5 separate regions of the Homo sapiens genome follow, and all the other regions are reported to be linked to region 3. Evidence: microRNA targets listed by miRTarBase, many of them from high-throughput screens and not tested one by one. Region 3 holds a microRNA gene; each other region holds the end of a gene's coding sequence.

Evidence for each region. The annotated mature microRNA hsa-miR-6737-5p reads UUGGGGUGGUCGGCCCUGGAG and lies in region 3 at 2,485-2,505, shown strand. An mRNA with a match to its seed (bases 2 to 7 or 8) in the 3' UTR can be bound and repressed. Matches are read on the target gene's strand: a 7mer-m8 pairs with bases 2 to 8, a 7mer-A1 pairs with bases 2 to 7 and ends in A, and an 8mer does both.
Region 1: miRTarBase lists MUC17 as a target of hsa-miR-6737-5p. Seed matches in the 3' UTR shown: 7mer-m8 at 579-585.
Region 2: the mRNA of BMP2 is a reported target of hsa-miR-6737-5p. Seed matches in the 3' UTR shown: 7mer-m8 at 943-949.
Region 4: miRTarBase lists C8orf58 as a target of hsa-miR-6737-5p. Seed matches in the 3' UTR shown: 7mer-A1 at 2,680-2,686.
Region 5: the mRNA of USH1G is a reported target of hsa-miR-6737-5p. Seed matches in the 3' UTR shown: 7mer-m8 at 1,255-1,261 and 7mer-m8 at 2,232-2,238.

The regions. Positions count from the first base shown.
Region 1 is chr7:101,057,753-101,062,007 of GRCh38, forward strand. MUC17 (mucin 17, cell surface associated) reads left to right here. Exons shown (of 13, transcript NM_001040105.2): 13 at 251-1,107. The coding sequence ends at 292. It also overlaps the pseudogene RN7SKP54. Among named protein-coding and RNA genes, the nearest start is that of TRIM56, 26 kb to the right of the region's middle.
Region 2 is chr20:6,778,228-6,782,539 of GRCh38, forward strand. BMP2 (bone morphogenetic protein 2) reads left to right here. Exons shown (of 3, transcript NM_001200.4): 3 at 18-2,019. The coding sequence ends at 862. Among named protein-coding and RNA genes, the nearest start is that of BMP2, 13 kb to the left of the region's middle.
Region 3 is chr1:153,960,588-153,964,899 of GRCh38, reverse strand. It overlaps MIR6737 (microRNA 6737), which reads left to right and starts at 2,480; the gene lies at 2,480-2,549. SLC39A1 (solute carrier family 39 member 1) reads left to right here and starts at 1,363. Exons shown (of 4, transcript NM_001271958.2): 1 at 1,363-1,405; 2 at 2,153-2,371; 3 at 2,550-2,680; 4 at 4,146-4,312. The coding sequence starts at 2,185. RefSeq lists enhancers at 987-1,266, 1,307-1,476, 1,627-1,686, 576-1,775, 1,727-1,796 and 1 more.
Region 4 is chr8:22,602,438-22,606,714 of GRCh38, reverse strand. It overlaps C8orf58 (chromosome 8 open reading frame 58), which reads right to left. Exons shown (of 7, transcript NM_001013842.3): 6 at 4,072-4,178; 7 at 2,573-3,520. The coding sequence ends at 3,409. CCAR2 (cell cycle and apoptosis regulator 2) reads right to left here and starts at 1,958. Exons shown (of 21, transcript NM_001393997.1): 1 at 1,873-1,958; 2 at 884-979; 3 at 539-630; 4 at 17-108. The coding sequence starts at 941. It overlaps LOC107986876 (a long non-coding RNA gene), which reads left to right and starts at 1,715. Exons shown (of 1, transcript NR_160769.1): 1 at 1,715-3,582. RefSeq lists silencers at 1,541-1,600, 1,661-1,960 and enhancers at 1,624-2,124, 2,131-2,240.
Region 5 is chr17:74,914,559-74,918,841 of GRCh38, reverse strand. USH1G (USH1 protein network component sans) reads left to right here. Exons shown (of 3, transcript NM_173477.5): 3 at 766-2,759. The coding sequence ends at 769. Among named protein-coding and RNA genes, the nearest start is that of USH1G, 6.6 kb to the left of the region's middle.

The sequences.
Region 1 (4,255 bases), not on the chromosome of region 3:
ACATGTAGTCCTAGCTACTTGGGAGGCTGAGGTGGGAGGATTGCTTGAGGCCAGAAGTTACAGGCCATGGTGAGCCGTGATTGTGCCACTGCACTCCAGCCTGGATGGCAGAGTAAGACCCTGTCTCAAAAAAATAATAAAAAATAAAAATAATTAAACAGAACACTTCCTATCCCAATCCTCCTTATGCTTCCAGAATCCCAAATTCCTCATGGGCTGAGCCCTCACTTGGTTTTATCTCTCTTTTCAGATCCGAATTCAGAGGCCTCAGGTAATGACGACATCATTTTAAGGCATGGAGCTGAGAAGTCTGGGAGTGAGGAGATCCCAGTCCGGCTAAGCTTGGTGGAGCATTTTCCCATTGAGAGCCTTCCATGGGAACTCAATGTTCCCATTGTAAGTACAGGAAACAAGCCCTGTACTTACCAAGGAGAAAGAGGAGAGACAGCAGTGCTGGGAGATTCTCAAATAGAAACCCGTGGACGCTCCAATGGGCTTGTCATGATATCAGGCTAGGCTTTCCTGCTCATTTTTCAAAGACGCTCCAGATTTGAGGGTACTCTGACTGCAACATCTTTCACCCCATTGATCGCCAGGATTGATTTGGTTGATCTGGCTGAGCAGGCGGGTGTCCCCGTCCTCCCTCACTGCCCCATATGTGTCCCTCCTAAAGCTGCATGCTCAGTTGAAGAGGACGAGAGGACGACCTTCTCTGATAGAGGAGGACCACGCTTCAGTCAAAGGCATACAAGTATCTATCTGGACTTCCCTGCTAGCACTTCCAAACAAGCTCAGAGATGTTCCTCCCCTCATCTGCCCGGGTTCAGTACCATGGACAGCGCCCTCGACCCGCTGTTTACAACCATGACCCCTTGGACACTGGACTGCATGCACTTTACATATCACAAAATGCTCTCATAAGAATTATTGCATACCATCTTCATGAAAAACACCTGTATTTAAATATAGAGCATTTACCTTTTGGTATATAAGATTGTGGGTATTTTTTAAGTTCTTATTGTTATGAGTTCTGATTTTTTCCTTAGTAAATATTATAATATATATTTGTAGTAACTAAAAATAATAAAGCAATTTTATTACAATTTTCATGGTTCCCAGATCTTTCCTCCTGTTTCCCATAGCTCCTGTTTCTAACCTCCCAGACTCTCTCTCTCTCCTCCAGAACATAAAATCGGATGCTTTTGGGGTTCAAGACAACAAGAGAGAGATTTGCAGTGGAAAGAGGACCATTCCTTGAACTCCACTGACACCATTTGCTGGTGTCCAAGAGGCAAGGCAGACAGACAGACAGACACACACACACATATACACATACACACAGAGGGGGGGGGGGGAGAGAGAGAGAGAGAGAGAGAGAGAGAGAGAGAGAGAGAGAGACTCACTTCCTACCAAAGAAAACCAAATTTTGCAAGCTCTCCTTCTGAAAACGGGCTTTTATTTCTTTCCATACATCTAAAGAGATAGAGACCTGGGTTCTATTTCAAGCTTTCTCGTGAATTCCTTGGGTTAAATCTGGGAAAAATCTATTTGGACTCAGTCTTGCCTTCTGCCGAATAAGGACTAGGTTATTTCTAAAGCCTCTTTCATCGCTGTCCTTCTTAATATTCCTAGGACGCTTTTTAATAATTATTGTTATTCCAGCCATGCCGCTCAGGATTCATTGTATTCTTGAAAGTCTGTCCCACCCGCCACCCGCTTCAAAGCCTAACCTGAGACAGAACCTGGACTCTGCTTCCCCCTACTGGACACTCTGAGCACCTGCAGGCACCATGCCGTTTCTCAGCGGTCCCCTTCTGGCCTCTCCTGTGACAAAAATATTCCGTTACACTTGATCATTTCCATATTTGCCATCAAAATTCTGTTTCTTTTCTTTTCCTTTTTTTGAAACAAAGTCTCACTCTTTCGCAAAGGCCAAAGCACAGTGGTGTGATCACTGCTCACTGCAACCTTGAGCTCCTGGGCTCAAGAATTCCTCCAGCCTCAGCCTCCCAAGTAACTGAGACCACAGATGCCGGCCACCACGCCCGGCTAATTTTTAATTTTTTCGTAGAGACGGGGTTTCGCTGTATTGTCCAGGCTGGTCTTGAATTCCTAGGCTCAAACGATCCAACCACTTCTGTCTCCCAAAATGCTGGGATTCCAGGCATGAGCCACTATGCCCGGCCTTTTTTTTTTTTTTTAATTTTGAAAATTTGCAAATCTACAGGGAAGTTAAAACAATAAAGTTAAAAAAGTGAACCCTACCTGGGCGTGGTGGCTCACGCCTGTAATCCCAGCACTTTGGGAGGCCGAGGCAGGCGGATCACCTGAGGTCAGGAGTTCAAGACCAGCCTGGCCAACATGGTAAAACCCTGACTCTATTAAAAATACAAAAACTAGCCGGGAATGGTGGCGCATGCCTGTAATCCCACTTACTTAGGAGGCTGAGGCAGGAGAATGGCTTGAACCTGGGAGGCGGAGGTTGCAGTGAGCGGAGATCGTACCACTGCATTCCAGCCTGGGTGACAGAGAGAGTCTGTCTTAAAAAAAAAAAAAAATTACACATATATATGTATATATAACAGTGAACCCCATATAACCTTCACCTGGAGTTATCAGTTGTTAACGTTGTGTCCTATTTGCTCTAAAGTGGTATGTATTTTTTCGAATTAAGCAAAATTGGAAATTAAAAATTAGAAAAGTTACAAATAAAAAATTACCACGAACCTGACCTTTTTTTTTTTAATTTTAGACTCAAGGGGTACATGTGCAGGTTTGTTTCAAAGGTATATTGTGTGGTGCTGAGGCTTAGAGTATGAATAAATCTGTCACACAGGTAGTGAGCATAGTACCCAATAGGTAGTTTTTCTCTTTTTTTCTTTTCTTCTTTTTTTTTTTTTTTTTTTGAGACCGAGACTCGCGGTCACCCAGGCTGGAGCGCAGTGGCACAATCTCAGCTCACTGCAACCTCTGCCTCCCGGGTTCAAGTGGTTCTCCTGCCTCAGCCTCCCGAGTAGCTGGGATTACAGGCGTGCACCACCTTGCCTGGTTAATTTTTATATTTTTAGTAGAGACGGAGTTTTGCCATGTTAGCCAGGCTGGTCTGGAATGCCTGACCTCAAGTGATCTGCCTGCCTTGGCGTCCCAAAATGCTGAGATTACAGGCATGAGCCACCACACCCGGCCCCAATAGGTATTTTTCCGACCCTTGACCCCCTCCCTCCTTCTCTGATTTTGGGGTCCCCAGTGTCAGCTGTTCCCATATTTGCGTCCATGTACACTCAATGTTTAGCACTCACTTATAAGCAAGAACATGCGGTATTTGGTTCTCTGTCTTTGTGTTAATTCATTTAGGATAATGGCCTCTAGTTGCATCCACGTTGCTGCAAAGGACGATTTCATTGTTTTATTTATGGCTGCATAGTATTCCATGGTGTACATGTACCACATTTTCTTTACCCAATCCACCATTGATGGGCACCTAGGTTGATTCCATGTCTTTGTTACTGTGAATAGTGCTGCAATAAACGTACAGGTGCAGGTGTGTTGGGGGTAGAATAGTTTATTTTTCCTTGGAGTACATACCCAGTAATGAACAATCCTCAGTTCCCAAAACTGAGCTGAATTCATACATCTTCACTTTCAGACCTGCCTCCTGCCTCCCATAGGCATCTGTGGCCATGGGAGCGGGGACTTAACAGGGCTACAGACCCCACATCCCATCTGGAACTGAAATCTCAGCACCTTCCCACTCTCTCATCCTATCTGTGAAACGGAGAGGCAGGACAGAGCACCCAGACCCATAGGCTGCCCAGGTCCACTCTTGGTGAGCCATTTACTACCTGCGTGAGCTTGGGAAAGTAACTTCTTCTCTCTGAACCTCTGCTCCCTCAGCTGTAAAAACAAAAAACAAAAAACAAACAAACAAAAAAAACACAACAACAACAACAAAACTGAGTAGCTGGGCGTGGTGACTCACATCTGTAATCTCAGCACTTTGGGAGGCTGAGGCCGGTGGATCACCTGAGGTCAGGAGTTTGAGACCAGCCTGGCCAACATGGTGAATTCCCGTCTCTACTAAAAATAGGAAAATTAGCCAGGTGTGGTGGCACACACCTGTAACCCCAGCTACTTGGGAGGCTGAGGCAGAAGAATCACTTGAACCTGGGAGGCAGAAGTTACAGTGAGCCGAGATTGCACCATTGCACTCCAGCCAGGGCAATAAGAGCAAAACAACTCTGTATTCAAAAAGAAA
Region 2 (4,312 bases), not on the chromosome of region 3:
TTTCTCTATCAAATTAGAATCTTTGGAAGAACTACCAGAAACGAGTGGGAAAACAACCCGGAGATTCTTCTTTAATTTAAGTTCTATCCCCACGGAGGAGTTTATCACCTCAGCAGAGCTTCAGGTTTTCCGAGAACAGATGCAAGATGCTTTAGGAAACAATAGCAGTTTCCATCACCGAATTAATATTTATGAAATCATAAAACCTGCAACAGCCAACTCGAAATTCCCCGTGACCAGACTTTTGGACACCAGGTTGGTGAATCAGAATGCAAGCAGGTGGGAAAGTTTTGATGTCACCCCCGCTGTGATGCGGTGGACTGCACAGGGACACGCCAACCATGGATTCGTGGTGGAAGTGGCCCACTTGGAGGAGAAACAAGGTGTCTCCAAGAGACATGTTAGGATAAGCAGGTCTTTGCACCAAGATGAACACAGCTGGTCACAGATAAGGCCATTGCTAGTAACTTTTGGCCATGATGGAAAAGGGCATCCTCTCCACAAAAGAGAAAAACGTCAAGCCAAACACAAACAGCGGAAACGCCTTAAGTCCAGCTGTAAGAGACACCCTTTGTACGTGGACTTCAGTGACGTGGGGTGGAATGACTGGATTGTGGCTCCCCCGGGGTATCACGCCTTTTACTGCCACGGAGAATGCCCTTTTCCTCTGGCTGATCATCTGAACTCCACTAATCATGCCATTGTTCAGACGTTGGTCAACTCTGTTAACTCTAAGATTCCTAAGGCATGCTGTGTCCCGACAGAACTCAGTGCTATCTCGATGCTGTACCTTGACGAGAATGAAAAGGTTGTATTAAAGAACTATCAGGACATGGTTGTGGAGGGTTGTGGGTGTCGCTAGTACAGCAAAATTAAATACATAAATATATATATATATATATATTTTAGAAAAAAGAAAAAAACAAACAAACAAAAAAACCCCACCCCAGTTGACACTTTAATATTTCCCAATGAAGACTTTATTTATGGAATGGAATGGAAAAAAAAACAGCTATTTTGAAAATATATTTATATCTACGAAAAGAAGTTGGGAAAACAAATATTTTAATCAGAGAATTATTCCTTAAAGATTTAAAATGTATTTAGTTGTACATTTTATATGGGTTCAACCCCAGCACATGAAGTATAATGGTCAGATTTATTTTGTATTTATTTACTATTATAACCACTTTTTAGGAAAAAAATAGCTAATTTGTATTTATATGTAATCAAAAGAAGTATCGGGTTTGTACATAATTTTCCAAAAATTGTAGTTGTTTTCAGTTGTGTGTATTTAAGATGAAAAGTCTACATGGAAGGTTACTCTGGCAAAGTGCTTAGCACGTTTGCTTTTTTGCAGTGCTACTGTTGAGTTCACAAGTTCAAGTCCAGAAAAAAAAAGTGGATAATCCACTCTGCTGACTTTCAAGATTATTATATTATTCAATTCTCAGGAATGTTGCAGAGTGATTGTCCAATCCATGAGAATTTACATCCTTATTAGGTGGAATATTTGGATAAGAACCAGACATTGCTGATCTATTATAGAAACTCTCCTCCTGCCCCTTAATTTACAGAAAGAATAAAGCAGGATCCATAGAAATAATTAGGAAAACGATGAACCTGCAGGAAAGTGAATGATGGTTTGTTGTTCTTCTTTCCTAAATTAGTGATCCCTTCAAAGGGGCTGATCTGGCCAAAGTATTCAATAAAACGTAAGATTTCTTCATTATTGATATTGTGGTCATATATATTTAAAATTGATATCTCGTGGCCCTCATCAAGGGTTGGAAATTTATTTGTGTTTTACCTTTACCTCATCTGAGAGCTCTTTATTCTCCAAAGAACCCAGTTTTCTAACTTTTTGCCCAACACGCAGCAAAATTATGCACATCGTGTTTTCTGCCCACCCTCTGTTCTCTGACCTATCAGCTTGCTTTTCTTTCCAAGGTTGTGTGTTTGAACACATTTCTCCAAATGTTAAACCTATTTCAGATAATAAATATCAAATCTCTGGCATTTCATTCTATAAAGTCCAACCTGTAAGAGAAAATGGTGCATTTGTATAGCGCTTACAATGATGACCTTGTGTTTGCATTTTTGTTTCTGAAGTTATATATTTTAGAGGGGGTGGGGGAAAGGTAATGAATGGCTGGAAAATTGCAGGCAAGTTATTTGATAAGTCATATTTGCACTAAAGGTGTTACCAGTGATTTAGTATTTTTCAAATGAACTTCTTTGGGGCAGAAAGATTTAAGGGAAAACTAAAGCCTACAAAACAAGCAAAACCTGGATAACCCGAGATAAAGTTTCAGAGATAATAGCCCATGCAACAGAGGCAACGGTGCCAGAAAATTAGAAAGGGAAAGTGTCGGAGATCAGCTTCTATAAGAACATCTGCCAGTTGGACTGACGCCCAAACAGAATGAAGTCAAATTAGGCTGCTCAGATTGAACACTTACCAGAGTGTCAGGGCTTCTGTACCCTGGGTTAGAATCAGACCAAGGAAGGGTTCAGCAGATGTTCATAAGAGCAGGGCACCCACAACTACCCACTATTTTACTGGCAGTATTTTAGGTCAGTTTCCAGGACTTTGCATCCCCTCTGATCCTGCCATGCATGATTGGTGAAACCTACCTCTAATCTCCTTGGAATTGGCTAAAAAACAGTGTGTTTATAATGGAACAGACTGTTATAATCAAATTCTTCCTAGGAATTAACTTTTGATGACTATGAGCTTAGTTACAGTTCGGAGGTTATGAGGTTATGTAAACCTTATCTTTAAATGTGCATGACAGTTATCTTTTACTAATGCTGGTTAACTTTTAAAATCTTGCAGCTCCTTTTTATCTCTAGTTCTATTGTTCTTGATTAGGTGAGAACCATTAGATCATACCCAACTGAGGGGATTGGGGTCTTGTTTGTTCTCCAGCTGTTCTTCACCCTCTATTGCCATGGACATGAAGGACAGACTGCACGGTCTTAACATGTTAAAACGAATGACCCATGTTTTCTCATATTCACATTCTCTAGATGAGAGCATGAGAGTATAGCACAAGAATTTCATCCTTTGGCAGTTCCATCCACCCTTTTGATTTCTCTGCTTCATTGGTTCTAATATTCTTGGTTAAAACTGTTTTCAATGGTGTCGACTAAAATGTGTTATCTTGCATATGCGTATTTAATATATAAAACATAAAATACATAAATATACATCTAAAGATGTATGTAATATGTAGTACATATGTATAGATGCTGGCATTTTCAGTTTAGTTTCAGAGATTTTATAATCAGACACTCTGACCCTCTTGGAAGCTCACATGAGAAACAATATTTTTACAAACATCCTACATTGTTACAGACATTTTAGCTCACAGTCTTCATTCCGAGGAATAAAGAGTCAAAATGAACATAACACTGAATGTCTTTAATTGCACTCACTATTCTATAGGATCCTTGGAATCATTTCAGAGTTGGCTTTAAAAAGTCCACACATAGTCATTTCTGAATTTTCAGGGGCCCGCCTTTCAAAATCGGTTAAACTGATCATCTGTTTTTGTGCTTGTCTCGACTGCATGTGCCCCTCTGGCATGGTTTTAACCTGTATGGCACGTCCGGGTTACCATGTTCATTATTTGCCTTCAAAAATTAGGAAAAGAGAGTGTGGGCAGCTTACAGATCTATCTGTGCTTCCATCTTTTCATAATTTCTACTTAAATCGCAGCTTTAAATTGTACCTTAAGAGGTCAAGAATGGAGAGATGATCTGTAAACCTGATCTATATAACAAGCTGTATAATCACTACATTACCTAAGCAATCCATATTTTTTCCCTCAATTTATTACTGGAGAGGGAAAATCATGTGCACAATTCAAAGGGCTTTCAAAAATAGCATATTTCTATGCTACTGGCATATTAATGTTAAGATTCACCGAATGTTTACGTGCCACAGCCTCCTTATCTGTTCTAAGGCAAAAGGAACATAGCCTTGCAGTCAAGAGCAATTAAAGCCTATAGTAATTGTGGCATAGATTCATAATCCAAGAAAAGTTAAGAATGTCCTGGCGCCATTTCTCTTCTGTTTTATATTTATTTATTTATTTATTTATTTATTTTTGTGCAGGGAACGGGTAGGGTGAAATGGGGGATAAGATGCAGGTCTGCTCAGCTTGGGTAAATTGCTTTTCCTCTTTCCTCCACCCTGCTGACATAAATTACAGCCTTTTGGTATTCTCCAGGGCAGAATTTTCTGACCATTTCCCTGGCTTGCAAACTTCAAAGTAAACTTCTACCTAACTTAGGGGACCAATGC
Region 3 (4,312 bases):
GGCGCGATCTCGGCTCACTGCAATTTCCGGCTCCCGGGTTCAAGCGATTCTCCTGCCTCGGCCTCCCGAGTAGCTGGGATTACAGGCCCCCGCCACCACGCCCGGCTAATTTTTGTATATTTAGTAGAGACGGGGTTTCACCATGTTGACCAGGCTGGTCTTGAACTTCTGTCCTCAGGTGATTCATCCTCGGCCTTCCAAAGTGCTTGGATTACAGGCGTGAACCACCGCGCCCGGCCCCTTAAGAAGTCTTCACATTCCTCTTTTACTTAAGGAATTACTGGGCTTCGTTTCTGGAGCCTTGTGAGAAGCATTACACTGTCCCCCCTTTTTTTTTTCTTTTTTAAAATTAATTTTCCTGTAGGAAGCAAGATCCCATCTGTCCCTTCTTTAGGCAATGAAGCTTTTTTCACCTTTGCATAAAAGAACAGCTGAGCCCCCTTTTTAAATTTTCTTTTGTCTTACCGTCCCTTGAGGCTAGAAGAGGATTCTCAAGGCACAGAGTTGTGGGCCACAAGAATCCAGGTTGAGGAAACGGTGAAAGTCCTGAGCTGAAACAACTACCTTGGGGCATTCAAGGAACAGCAAACAGCAAACCGACCGGCGAGGGTGGCGGGAGCTGGGCTGGAAATCAGGTGGGAGAACCGGCCAGACGCCCGCAGGCGCGGTACGCAGATATCCTGGAATGCGCTGGGGGCTCTTCCCTGGGCGCGGCTTCAGCACCCCGCATTCCGGTCCCACCACGTCCCCACCCACCTGGAGAAGGCGGAGGCTGCACTGAGTGCCATAAGTAGTCGAGAAGGGATGATTTTCAAGACATACCCTCTCTTTGCTTTCCCCCCTTTCCAATTCTGCCTTGTCTTTTTCCTTGTTGTGGGTGCTGGTGAGGGAAAGCAGTCAAGGAAGTTGGTCCCAAGAGGGGAATGCTTTCCCTTGGGCGCCAAGAGGCACTGACGAGGTGTCAGAGCCTTCTGAGGGACAGATGAGACTTTGGCCCAAGGCCAGGAAGATGTTTTCAGATGTGGGCCGGAAGACTTGACAATGCGGGGTCTCCCTCTTTTAAAAATATCCATATAATCAAAGCCTTTGTTGACTGGCCCGCTCCGGCCCCTCAGTCCTCCACAGATGCGCCCCAGGGCCCCAGCCCCGAGGTCCTTTTCCTAATATCCGCTCTTGCTCTCGCTCACTCTCCTCAGGTCGCCTGCTCCGCCCGCTCCCGCTCCCGATCTCTGATTGCTCCTAACTGACGTCACTCCCGGTCTGTCCCCGCCCACTCGGTGCTGCCATTGGCAGTCGGTCGTGGGTACGCGGCTCCTGTGGGGGAGGGGGGAGCTATGGGAGGGGGCGGGAATTCCCGACTCTAGGCCGGAAGCGCGCGGAGACCATGTAGTGAGACCCTCGCGAGGTGAGTGCGGGCTGTCTGGCAGCGGGGTCCATGTCGGCTGCCCAGGCCTCCCCGGGCCCGGGAACAGGAGTCCCAGCTCACGCATTCTTCATCTGCTTCCCGCGACGCTTGGCGGCCTCGCACCCCGCCTCCTGGAGCCCGGACTTTCAGGCACCGCCCTCAGTGTCGCCTCAGTCCGTCCCGGGACCGCAGACTCTTAGGGCCCCTCTCTTTGGCCATCTGCCTCTAGGTCCCATCCTGGGGCCTGAAGCGCTTGTTCTCTGCGCTGGGAAAAGGGGAACGATGGAGCGATCCAGCACCCAAACTTACCCTGTCCAGGTGGCCCACGAAGCTACCCAAGACATCTCTGCACAGCCCTAGCCTTTTTGGCTTCACCCACTCCGTTCGGGAGTTGGGGACCCGGCCTCTACATTCCTTAGGGGAACTCCAGCTCCAGGTCCTATTTGGAGGCGGCTCCTAGTTTCCTAGTTTTCTGGGGGCACCAGGTGAAAGGGTGATGAGATATCCATACAGCCTTTCTCATGCCTCGGTTTCCCCCGTGCAGTCTCCCTGAATAAGTCACTTGGGAAAGAAAGTGTGAGAAGAGAGGAATGTTCCTGGTACAGGAGTAGATGAGTCACCCTGGGTAGGGGAAGGTCACAAAGTGGCTGGGGCCAGGGAGCTGCACTCTGCTGACCAAGCTTCCCCATTCCTTGCCCCATCTTCCTTTGCATGATTTTTCCCAACCACTCTGGTCTGTCTTCCTAGGTCTGAGAGTCACTGGAGCTACCAGAAGCATCATGGGGCCCTGGGGAGAGCCAGAGCTCCTGGTGTGGCGCCCCGAGGCGGTAGCTTCAGAGCCTCCAGTGCCTGTGGGGCTGGAGGTGAAGTTGGGGGCCCTGGTGCTGCTGCTGGTGCTCACCCTCCTCTGCAGCCTGGTGCCCATCTGTGTGCTGCGCCGGCCAGGAGCTAACCATGAAGGCTCAGGTAAGCCTCTCCTTTTCCCCACACTGCTATGAATGCTTGGCTTAGGGAGGGCTCTGGGGCTGGCGGGGAGTGACCAAAGGAGGAGGGAAAGGCAAGGGTAGCCATTGTTTGGGTTGGGGTGGTCGGCCCTGGAGGGGGTTTGTTTGCTTATTCCCCTCTGTGCTTCACCCCTACCCAGCTTCCCGCCAGAAAGCCCTGAGCCTAGTAAGCTGTTTCGCGGGGGGCGTCTTTTTGGCCACTTGTCTCCTGGACCTGCTGCCTGACTACCTGGCTGCCATAGATGAGGCCCTGGCAGCCTTGCACGTGACGGTGAGCACTGGCCTGGGCATGTGACTTGCGGGAGGGGAATCACACACCTCTGGGAGTGTTGGTTTGTGGAGATTGATTCATGTGCCACTCCATGACTGTGTGGAAGACTTTTGGCATGTGGTATGAATTGTGATTTTTGGTTATGGGGCATAATTCTTTCTATGTGTTCCCTCCCCCTTCCCCATTCCCTGTGTGACCCCTACATTCCCGTTGAGACAGTAAGACACTTTTTCTCAGGTGTGTGACTTGCTCTATGGGTTCTCAGTTCTAGCTACCAGCAAGTGCTCCAAGAATCATCTTCACTCTCTCACCACTTTCCTAAAGGGCTGGAGATAGAGGTCTCTGTAGGCCTGAGAAGGATAGGAAGCGATTCCCTGGGTCTTGGTGTTGCTAACCTTTTTAGGCTTTGGCCCAAGGAAGTGGGCTGTGAGGAATGATCAAGTCCACGGCATAGGACTTGGTTTATTATAGGAAAAACTGAGGCCGTTGGATAGTGGGGCAGGAAAGTCATCCTGGGCTCTTTCCTTTTTTCCTCTAAAACTGAGGAAGTAACACTGGATGTATCCCTTTGTGTGTCTGTGACTGAGTGACCTGTGTTTCCGTGTGACTGCGTATAAGCCTGAATGTCCTGTGATATGTGGCTCTATGTATGAGTATTTGGGGAGATGGGCAATGTGTGACCTTTTCATGTATGTCTACATCAGTGACTCTCAACTAGGAGTGTGGCTTTGCCCCTCAGGAAACATTTGGTAATGTCTGGGGATATTTTTAGTTGTCACAATGGGGAGGGGGATGGAGGGAACATTGTGCCTGCTATTGGCATCTGGTAAGTAGAGATCAGAAATGCTGTTAAACAATCTACAGTGCACAAGACAGCTCCCATGACAAAGAATTATCTGGCCCAAAATGTTTTTGTTTGTTTGTTTTTGTTTTGTTTTGTTTTTGAGAAAGAGTCTTGCTCTGTTGCCCAGGCTGGAGTGCAGTGGCACAATCTCGACTCACTGCAATCTCTGGCTCCTGGGTTCAAGTGATTCTCCTGGCTCAGACTCCTGAGTAGCTGGGATTACAGGCATCCACCACCACACCCTGCCAATTTTTGTATTTTTAGTAGAGACAGGGTTTCACCATGTTGGCCAGGCTGGTCTCAAACTCCTGACCTCAAGTGATCTTCCCACTTTGGTCTTCCAAAGTGCTGGGATTATAGGCATGAGCCACTGCCCCTGGCCCCAAAATGTTAATAGTTCCAAAGCTGAGAAACTTTGGTCTACACGTAACACTGTGAGTGACACCATAATCTGTGTGTACGTATCATTCTGTGTCAGTGTTACCAATTCACTCTATCTTTGTGTGACTGAGAGTAGCCCTGTGTCTGTGTCAGACCCTAGGTCTGTGTAACTGGGCTTTCACCAGATTTTGCATCTCACTCTTCCTTCCCTGAACATTTTGCTGCTGCTTCTGCCCACAGCTCCAGTTCCCACTGCAAGAGTTCATCCTGGCCATGGGCTTCTTCCTGGTCCTGGTGATGGAGCAGATCACACTGGCTTACAAGGAGCAGTCAGGGCCGTCACCTCTGGAGGAAACAAGGGCTCTGCTGGGAACAGTGAATGGTGGGCCGCAGCATTGGCATGATGG
Region 4 (4,277 bases), not on the chromosome of region 3:
CCAACCTCAAGCCTACCTTAGCTGAAAAAAGACCTCTTCATCCACAACCCCAAAGTAGTCATGCAAGCTGGTAACAATACCAGTGAAGACCCGCTGTTTCTCCCCACCCTGTAAGAGAAGGAGACAGCTGAAAAGTAAAAGGGAGGAAACTGGACAAAATCACACTCTGCCATGAAGGTCTCATCTCAACCCACGCCCCAGCTCAGCGTACTGCATCAAGAGTTCGCACAGAGTGAAGTACAGGTGTGGTGGGCATACTCCATCATTAGGGGTTGGGGCATGTTTGAGCTGGTTCTTGACCCACAAGCTTCTTCTGGGATTTCCAGTTCATTAATTCCAAGACGTAAGCTAAAGATTTCCCTGGAGCGAGAAATGAAGATGCCCCAGTCTGAAGGCTATCTGGGCAACCCCATACTAGCCCACTACCAGGAGAGGGATCAGGAATGATAAACACTATTATGTAAGAGAAAAAGAGCACCAGGCCTCCATGCATTCAGTCCCAAGGGCTGAAACTTACTACAAGGGATGCCGAACCTACCTGAAGGTGCCTGGCATTCTGGGACAGTTCTGTGGCCACAGGAGGAGTGAGCAAACCAGGAGGAGGGCCCAGAAGAGATGTTGAAGCTGTGCCTATGGGGAAAGAGAAGCAATCTCCAGGAACCGCCCCTACCACCTTAAGCACGAGTCAACCAAAGGATGTGGTAAATCCAAAGGCTACAGCTCCAGCCAGCTCCTCCACAGAGCTTCACTGGCAATCACTGTGGGCATCTCCTGCTTTCCAGAGGAACATCAGCAGCAAATTGCTCTCCACCAGGGAAACCCCAAACTAACTCCAGAGCACATACTTCCCAGGATGAGGCCAGGTAGGGAGAACAGTGATCACCTGAGAAGTTGCGTCCCCCTGGAAGCGGGTTGATCCGCTGGCGCTTAAACTGGGACATTGGGAACGCTGTCCTCTTTCAGAGTCGTGGGGAAAAGGCTTCAATCCAAAAAGAAAGAAATTAACAGCTTATAAGGGAAATTTCCATCTATACCCGGAAAAGTGGAGAATCTTAAGTAAGGATATTTCGGAAAACAGGGAGGTGGGTAATAAGAATGAATGAAAGCAATGGATGGAGAGAATATAGAGAAGAAAGAAATGAAACAAGAAATTACATTGTTCCAGTTTGCCCTGACAATAACCTAGTGGTGCATGATACTGTCATGCTGTTTTACAGACAAGGAAACTGATGCTCAGAGAGATCAAGAGACTTGCCCGGGGCCACATAACCAGGTAGTGACAAAACTGCTACTCACACCCAGGCCTCCCAACAACTTAGCGCTCCTCTCACTATGCCACGCCACCCCCAGAGTAGCTGGCGGGGTGAGGGGCTCGAGAGAGCCCCGATGACATTCCTTCGTTCAAAAACATCCGCCAAAACCCTCCACGCAAGGCCCGGAAAAATGGAGGAGGCCGGTGCCGGCGAGGAGACTGTGTGGGCCCTCTCCCCGGAAGCCCGACCCGTTGTTTCCTCGACCGGCTGGTGGGAAGGCAGCTCCCTGGCCGACCAAACGCGAAACCGGCTGCGCGCCACCCTCCTGCTCCCACGCTCCCGGGCCCTCCGCTCCGGCCTCAGCAGCCGCCAGCGCCGGGTCTCCCAGCAGAGCCGCGGCGAGGCCACCAAGGGAGGACTGAGGCGCGCGGTTTCTCCTCCTCCCGCCCGCCCCCAAGGCCGAGGCCGTTGCCAGGGAGACGGGACTTGCAGTCCAAAGAGGGGCTCGGCCCCTTCCGCGCCCCACGCATCTTCGCCGCCCGGCCCTCGCAGCCCCTCGGCCAGCGGAGGGGCGGAGGGGCGAAGGGGCAGAGGGGCGGCAGGGGGCCCCCCAACCCACCTGCGGGCCAGGGCAGCGACACCGGGGGGACAAAGACACCCGGAACCACCACAGCCGCTGCTGCCGCCGCCACCGGAAGCGCCTCTCCGGAAGCGCGACCACTGGTCGGAAGCTGCCGCTCTCCCGGATATGGTCCCTCCCTCGTCTCCGCCGACCTCTCCCTTCCCCCACGCCGGCTTGCCATCCCGCGGCAACTGGGGAGCGGAAGTGCGCCTTCCCGGATCGGATGCGCGTCAGGAAGTCGCGCCTCGGTAGTGTCCTCGCTAAAGAATCCCATCAGGAAAGAAGGCTTCGGATCATTGGTTCCGGGCTCAAAGGAAGCGGGAGCTGGGCCCCCCAAACACAAGGGACCCCCGACTGCCTACCACGCTCGCCTCCCTCTGGCAGTCGAGACTGCAACAGATAAGGAAACCAGCCCCTCCTGACTGGAGGAGAAGGATGCCTATCAGTGACCATTTCTAAGAGACATTCCTGGTCTGACTCAAGCCAGTGACCACCATGCCTAGCCAGTCAGGAATCAGTGCCCTAATTCTCAAATATGAAATCTAAGAGGCCTCAATGAAATGACCTGCTCAAAATCTTGCCAGGAGACTGGCCATTTTAGTCCCCATTAGCAATCCCAGCCCCCCCTTATCCTCCGACCTCCCCATCATCACTCCAGCCTTACTTTCCCCTTTCCTATTCACCTGAGGTTTACAAAGCACTTTGAGGCAGTTTAATCTCACTTTATCCTCATAACAAGTCTGTGAGGTAGATAGGGCAGGCATCATTATTCCCAGCGGGAAGCTGTGGCTCAGAAAGGTTGACTTGGGGTCTAAAAACTAGTACAGGCATCTGGTTTGAATTAAGACCTGTAAACGCTAGTACGGAGCAGAGAAGCTGAGCACTGGCTTTGAAAGTTATTCAGTTCCCAGGTTGTCCCTGATCTTCCTCATTCCTTGTGCAGTCTTCAGGAGTCCGGGGCAAGATTCCATGCAGAGGCAGCCAAAGCCACACCGTTCTCTGTCCCAGGGCTGCCAGCATGGCTCTGAGGAGGAAAGCTCAGTAACTGCCCACTGGGGAATAAAGGTCAGTTCCATCCTTCTGCAGTGACCTCCCCCAGAATATCAACCCTTTGGATGCATTATTTCAGAAGAGATGGTTGGATCCAGCCAGCTTGCAACACTGACAGTCACACAGAGATATGCATACCATTGCGCATAAATACACATCTGCAACATGCTGGGCCCAGACAGGTCACCATGCCAAAAACACTCCACGGACACCTGACAATGAGTGAGTTCACATTGTGGAAGCCCAGGGATTTCTGGTGAGGAGGAAGAGCCCTGGAGCTGCGGCATCTTGGGGGCCTCTCAAGAAACCAAGGTTCCTGACCAGACTGCTTAGAGGAGAAAGATTCAGCCCTCGACTCAAGAGAGGAGGGCAGGCGTCAGCAGCTTTTCCTGGCAATGTGGAGAAGCAGCAAGAGGGCAGAGGGCGAGGAAGACTTCACAGCAAGTCCCCTCCACCCAGGGTCACCAGGTGCACCGAGAGGTCTCAGCCTACAGAAAGGTTTTTTGCTCGTTGCTTCTTAACCACTAATGATGGCATAAAGGTCTTCCGGTGGGGGCGGCACTGAGGCCTTTCAGGGAGGTCCCTGGACTCGATCCTGTGGAATGAAAAGAAGACATTAGGCTAGAAGGGGGAAATAAAACTAACAATGGCCCTAGAGTTGAGAGAACGTGGTTTATCTGCTGGTGGGTAGCTGGGTGTGGGCGCAGCCCGGGGCTGTTAAATGACTTGGTATTTCTTCCTCCTGGAGAACGATTCAATACAAGCCCCGAAGCATGATGGCCTTCACCCACTGTGAAATCCTTTGTGCTCCACCTTGCTCTCCCCACGAACCTGGAAGGTGGCCTAAATGTCAGCATTGAGGGTGAGGGGTTGCTGAGCTAGGGTAGGCAGATTTCCCACATTCTGGTCCTAGCTGTCACTGACTCACCGTGCGGCTTTGGAAAAGCAACTACCCCCAACCCCACCCAGAACCCTGCCTCCTTATCTGTAAATGGGGTGTTTTAACTACTGTTTCTTCTAGCAGCCCCTCCCAGACTGCCTCTCAAGTTTTGCGGGGACAATAATGACAACTGGCATGACAATCTCAGCATCCTGGCTTATCAGTCTCCTCTCCGTGCCCTAACCTGGGCTGGGCACGGGGCTCACCTGGGGTCAGAGCCATCAGGAGGGGCAGGGGGCTCAGGGTGGTGGTGGCTTCTCCGGCAGATCCGGTTGAGCAGGACCTTGACCTTGTCCCAGTGGGAGATATCCCGCTGAGCAGAGGATGAGGGGTCACCCAGAGCCCTCCCCACACTCAGACCCCCGACCAAGCTCCCAGAGACAGCTGTCGCCACAGCCAGGACAAGTCGCCT
Region 5 (4,283 bases), not on the chromosome of region 3:
AGACCTCAGGCAGATTTTTTTTTTTTTTTTTTTGAGACAGTTTCCCTCTTGTCATCCAGGCTGGAGTGCAGTGGCACAATCACTGTAACCTCCACCTCCCGGGTTCAAGCGATTCTCCTGCCTCAGCCTCCTGAGTAGCTGGGATTACAGGAGTGCACCACCATGCCCAGCTAATTTCTGTATTTTTAGTAGAGATGGGGTTTTGCCATGTTGGCCAGGCTGGTCTCGAACTCCTGACCTCAAGTGATCTGCCCACTCTGGCCTCCCAAAGTGCTGGGATTACAGGCGTGAGCCACCGCGCCTGGCCTTAGGGAGATGTTTTACCTACTGTTCCTGAACTTTGCAATCAGGAACGTGGGCAAATGCTCCCAAGAGGGTCAGCAGCAGCCCTGGAGGCAGAGTTCATGTTCCAAAGGCCGTCATAGTTGCCCAAGGCTGCCACCACAATGGTCATGCTGTGGCCAGCCCCTGCCCTGGCCCCTCCCCAATGGCATCCCACAGGCCCAACAAACTTTGTCCTCATTTCCTCTTAGGTATCTATGGCCGTTATCCTGAATGGCTGGGGCAGGGATGGGTGTGGGGAGGCAGGCTGGTTCAGAGTTTTGGGGATGGGGAGGTCACCCATAGGCTGGCGTCCCCCATCCCTGACAATTGGCCTGCCGAGAGATGGGGAGGCTAAGTTGTCCAGATGGCTGCCCTGGGTGAAAATGATGCCTCTGGAGGGCCTCATGTGAGATCTGTTTCTTTCTGTCTCTTCCTCCACAGATAACCGGGGGCTCCTCTCCCCAGACCAAAATGAATTGCAAGTTGCCACAACCTATGGTGGGGTCTCGAGGTCCTCACAGTTGCCAGCCCTGCAGCCCCCTTCCCCAGGAGCAAGGACCAGTTGGGGCGACTCCTTTGAAAGTCTGTCTGCACCTTGAAGCTGAGGGTGTGGCCTGGAGGCACCAGAGGGGCAAGAGAATGTTCCGGAACTCCAGTTCTGAGGGGTCTTGAAGGCCCTGAGCCACCCATTCTGAGCAGCCGTAAAGGACATGTAGACTTGGGGGAGGCCTGCCCCAGAGGGAGGGCAGGGGCATCGGAACTGGATGAGAGTGTGGGAGGTGGATGCGGGAGGGTGCACCTGTCCCGGGCGCCGTGGCCTCTCCCACCCCTCCCCTGATGGTCTTGTTCTCTTGTGCTCAGGCCAGAGACTTGCTCACTTCCTGCATTGTTGTGAAGGGAAGAGTTTGGGCTGCCTCCCCTCCTCCCGTCCACCCCAGAGGGGAAGTTCCTCAGCCAGACTCTTCAGCCAAATGCCCCAACTTTCAGTCTGTACCCCATCCCAAGCATAGCCAGCTCCCCCTCCTTCACCTAGTGGTCAAGGCCCGGAGCTGGAAAGCCGGGTTGGGGTGGGGTGGGGGTACTGACGCCCTTCCCAGCTCATCCAGGGGTGGAGCCTGGCCTGTCTTCCTCCAACCTCCCCCTTTTTCGTTGTGCAGCCTGGCCCCCCAGGGACCCCAGAGGGCCAGGGCGCTAGATGCAAGGTGCTAGACCAATGGGCTGCAGTATTATAGCCCCCAGGCCTGGCAGGCATGCGCTGGGCTAGAGAAAGGTGTCCGCCAACCTCCTCAGTCTCCCAGGCCTGGGACAGGCAGAACAGGGTGTGGCTGGGTGTCAGGCCTGGGGTGGGTAAGTCCTGCGATGTGGACACTGGAGAAAGTGGATCCTCTAAACTGCAGATTGTCCCCAGGTCACCAGGGCTGTGTGCGTGTGCATGTTTGTGTGCATGTATGCGTGTGTGCATGCATGTGTGTGTAAGTATGTGGTATGTGTGAGCACGGGTGTGTGCTTGGGTGTGTGTGTTCTTGCATACATGTGTGCGTGTGTGTGCACGTGAACGCGTGCGTGTTTGTGTGTGTGCATGCATGTGTGTGCATGTGTGTGTGTGCATGCATGTGTGTGTGTGTGCATGTGTGCGTGTGTGCACACTCACGTTGGGTGGTGTTTGGTAGGTTTCCCTCCAGGTCTGGTAGGGACTGGGCTGTTGCGTGATTCTGCGTGGATCGGGGGTAAGAGAGCTCACCTGTGTCCCAGCCCTCTGATGGTGGTGAGACCAGGGGAAAGGCCAGCTCAGAGGGTGGTCACAGCATGTGTCCTCTGACGTATGCCCCCAAAGCTCTCCAGCCAGACTGAGGTCACAGATGTGGGAGAGTCCCTGATGAGCCCGCTGACACGTGTGCGCCCCTTTGCACCCCATGCAGAGGTGCTCTCCTCCTTTCTCAGCCATGGCCCCCCATCCCTGACCTCAGCTTGGGAAGCAGCTCCTGCTGGGAGCATGGCCTCAGCCCCCAGCATCTCCTGGGGCCCCCATGGCTGGGGCAGGGGAAAGAGAGCCCTCAAAGGCCTCTTTCTGGTCTGTCTGGGGGTTCCCATTCCCACACATGTGCCCAGAGTAGGGGGCATGGAGGAGATGGTCCCTGTCCTACTGCAGGACACTGAGGGCTTGGCTGCCTGCCACCGCCATCTGGAGCCCACCACAGCTCTTCTCCCTGTTCTCTGGGCCTGAGCCTGGGGCCACCCCCAAGTGCCGACTTGTTTCTCCCAGAGCCCCAGGTGCTGCCCCTTCTCTCCTGTTCCTCGTCCGTTTACTGCCGCAGCCCCTCCTGGTTCTTCTGGTGCTGGGGTGGAGCAGGCTCTGTGCTCCCACCACTGTACCCCGAATCCCTCCTGCAGGCTCATTGCCACTTTTGTAGAGAATGTTCTCTATCAGTATCGTACCTGTCTTGTCCTTTAATGCTTTGGGGATAGAGTGAAGAGTGGAAGGGTGGGGGTGGGGGCGGGAGGGGGTCTGCTCTGCGCTTGTGAGGACTGGGTCCTATTCTCTGGAGTGTCTTCGAGACCCCATGCTGTGCATCTTTGCAGGGATCCCTAGGCCTTTACCTGCTCTCCTAGCTCAGCCCAGAATTAGGAGCTGGTGGAGAGGCAGGGCTGAGAACTAGGGCAGGAGAGTCCCCCTGAGCAAGGAGGATGGCTGAGCCTCCAGGCTTGTTGCCAGGGCCTGCAGCTACGGAGGGCAGGAGGATGCATGTTCTCTCTTCCCACCAGTGCCTACCTGGGTTTTTCCAGAGATGGGCAGAAACATACTCCAGGAGGCTGCTGCCTGTCACCTGGGCTCTGGGCCTCTGGAGGGGTCTCCATGAGGGCCCTCCAGAGGCCCAGAGGGGTCTCCATGTCCCTCATCACCGCAGGCAGCTCGTGGGCAGCCTGATTTGAAGCCCTGCTTTCTCCCAGGGGTGAGTCTCCTCCATAAGCTGGTGCCTAGTGGGCTCTGTTTTCTCAGTCAGGTCTGAGGAAGGGCCCTGGAGTCATCTTGCTCCATTGCCTAAGCTGCTGGGCCAGTTTCTTCTGCCAAAGGGAGTTCAAGACAGTTCCCTTCCCTCAGCATCAATCAGAAAGGTCCCCAGGATGTTGGTGCAGGAAGGTTGCCTAGCAACCATCCAGGGGTTCCAAGCCACCTCCCTCCACTTTACAGATGGAAAAACTGAGGCCCACAGAGGGGAAGAGTCAGACCCAGAACGCGGGTCTCTGGCTGCTGCCATGCTCTCCTCACACTCAGGCTGCCAAGGGCGCTAACACAACAGGATTCCACCAGCCATGCCCTGGGGGCGCACCTCCCTGCGGCTTCTTTGGCCATCCTGGTCACTGCACCCACCTCAGGAAAGACTCACTGGTCCTTGCCGCGATGGTCCAGAAGAGGACACGGGTGAGGAATGACAAGACAGAGAGCCGAGGGGCACTTTGGCATCCCAGCAGAGATGAACCAGAGGCAGCAGGATGAGGGGCTCCATGGGTCAGTGTGGCTCCAGGGCAGAAGCCTGGGGTGCCAGGAGCAGGAGCTGCTCCAGGGAGCCTGTGGGGATGTTCAACACAAGCAAAGAGGAGAAAATATTACATGGTAGGGGCTCAACTTTCATGACTCATTTCCCTAAAGATTTAGATCAAGAATAGGGACATTTACGAGGTCAGGAGATCGAAACCATCCTGGCTAACATGGTGAAACTCTGTCTCTACTAAAAATACAAAAAATTAGCCTGACGTGGTGGTGGGCGCCTGTAGTCCCAGCTACTTGGGAGGCTGAGGCAGGAGAATGGTGTGAACCCGGGAGGCAGAGCTTGCAGTGAGCCGAGATTGCGCCACTGCACTCCAGCCTGGGCGACAGAGCGAGACTCCGTCTCAAAAAAAAAAAAAAAAAAAAAAAGGGACGTTTTAGCACTTTGGGAGGTAGAGGTGAGTGGATTGTT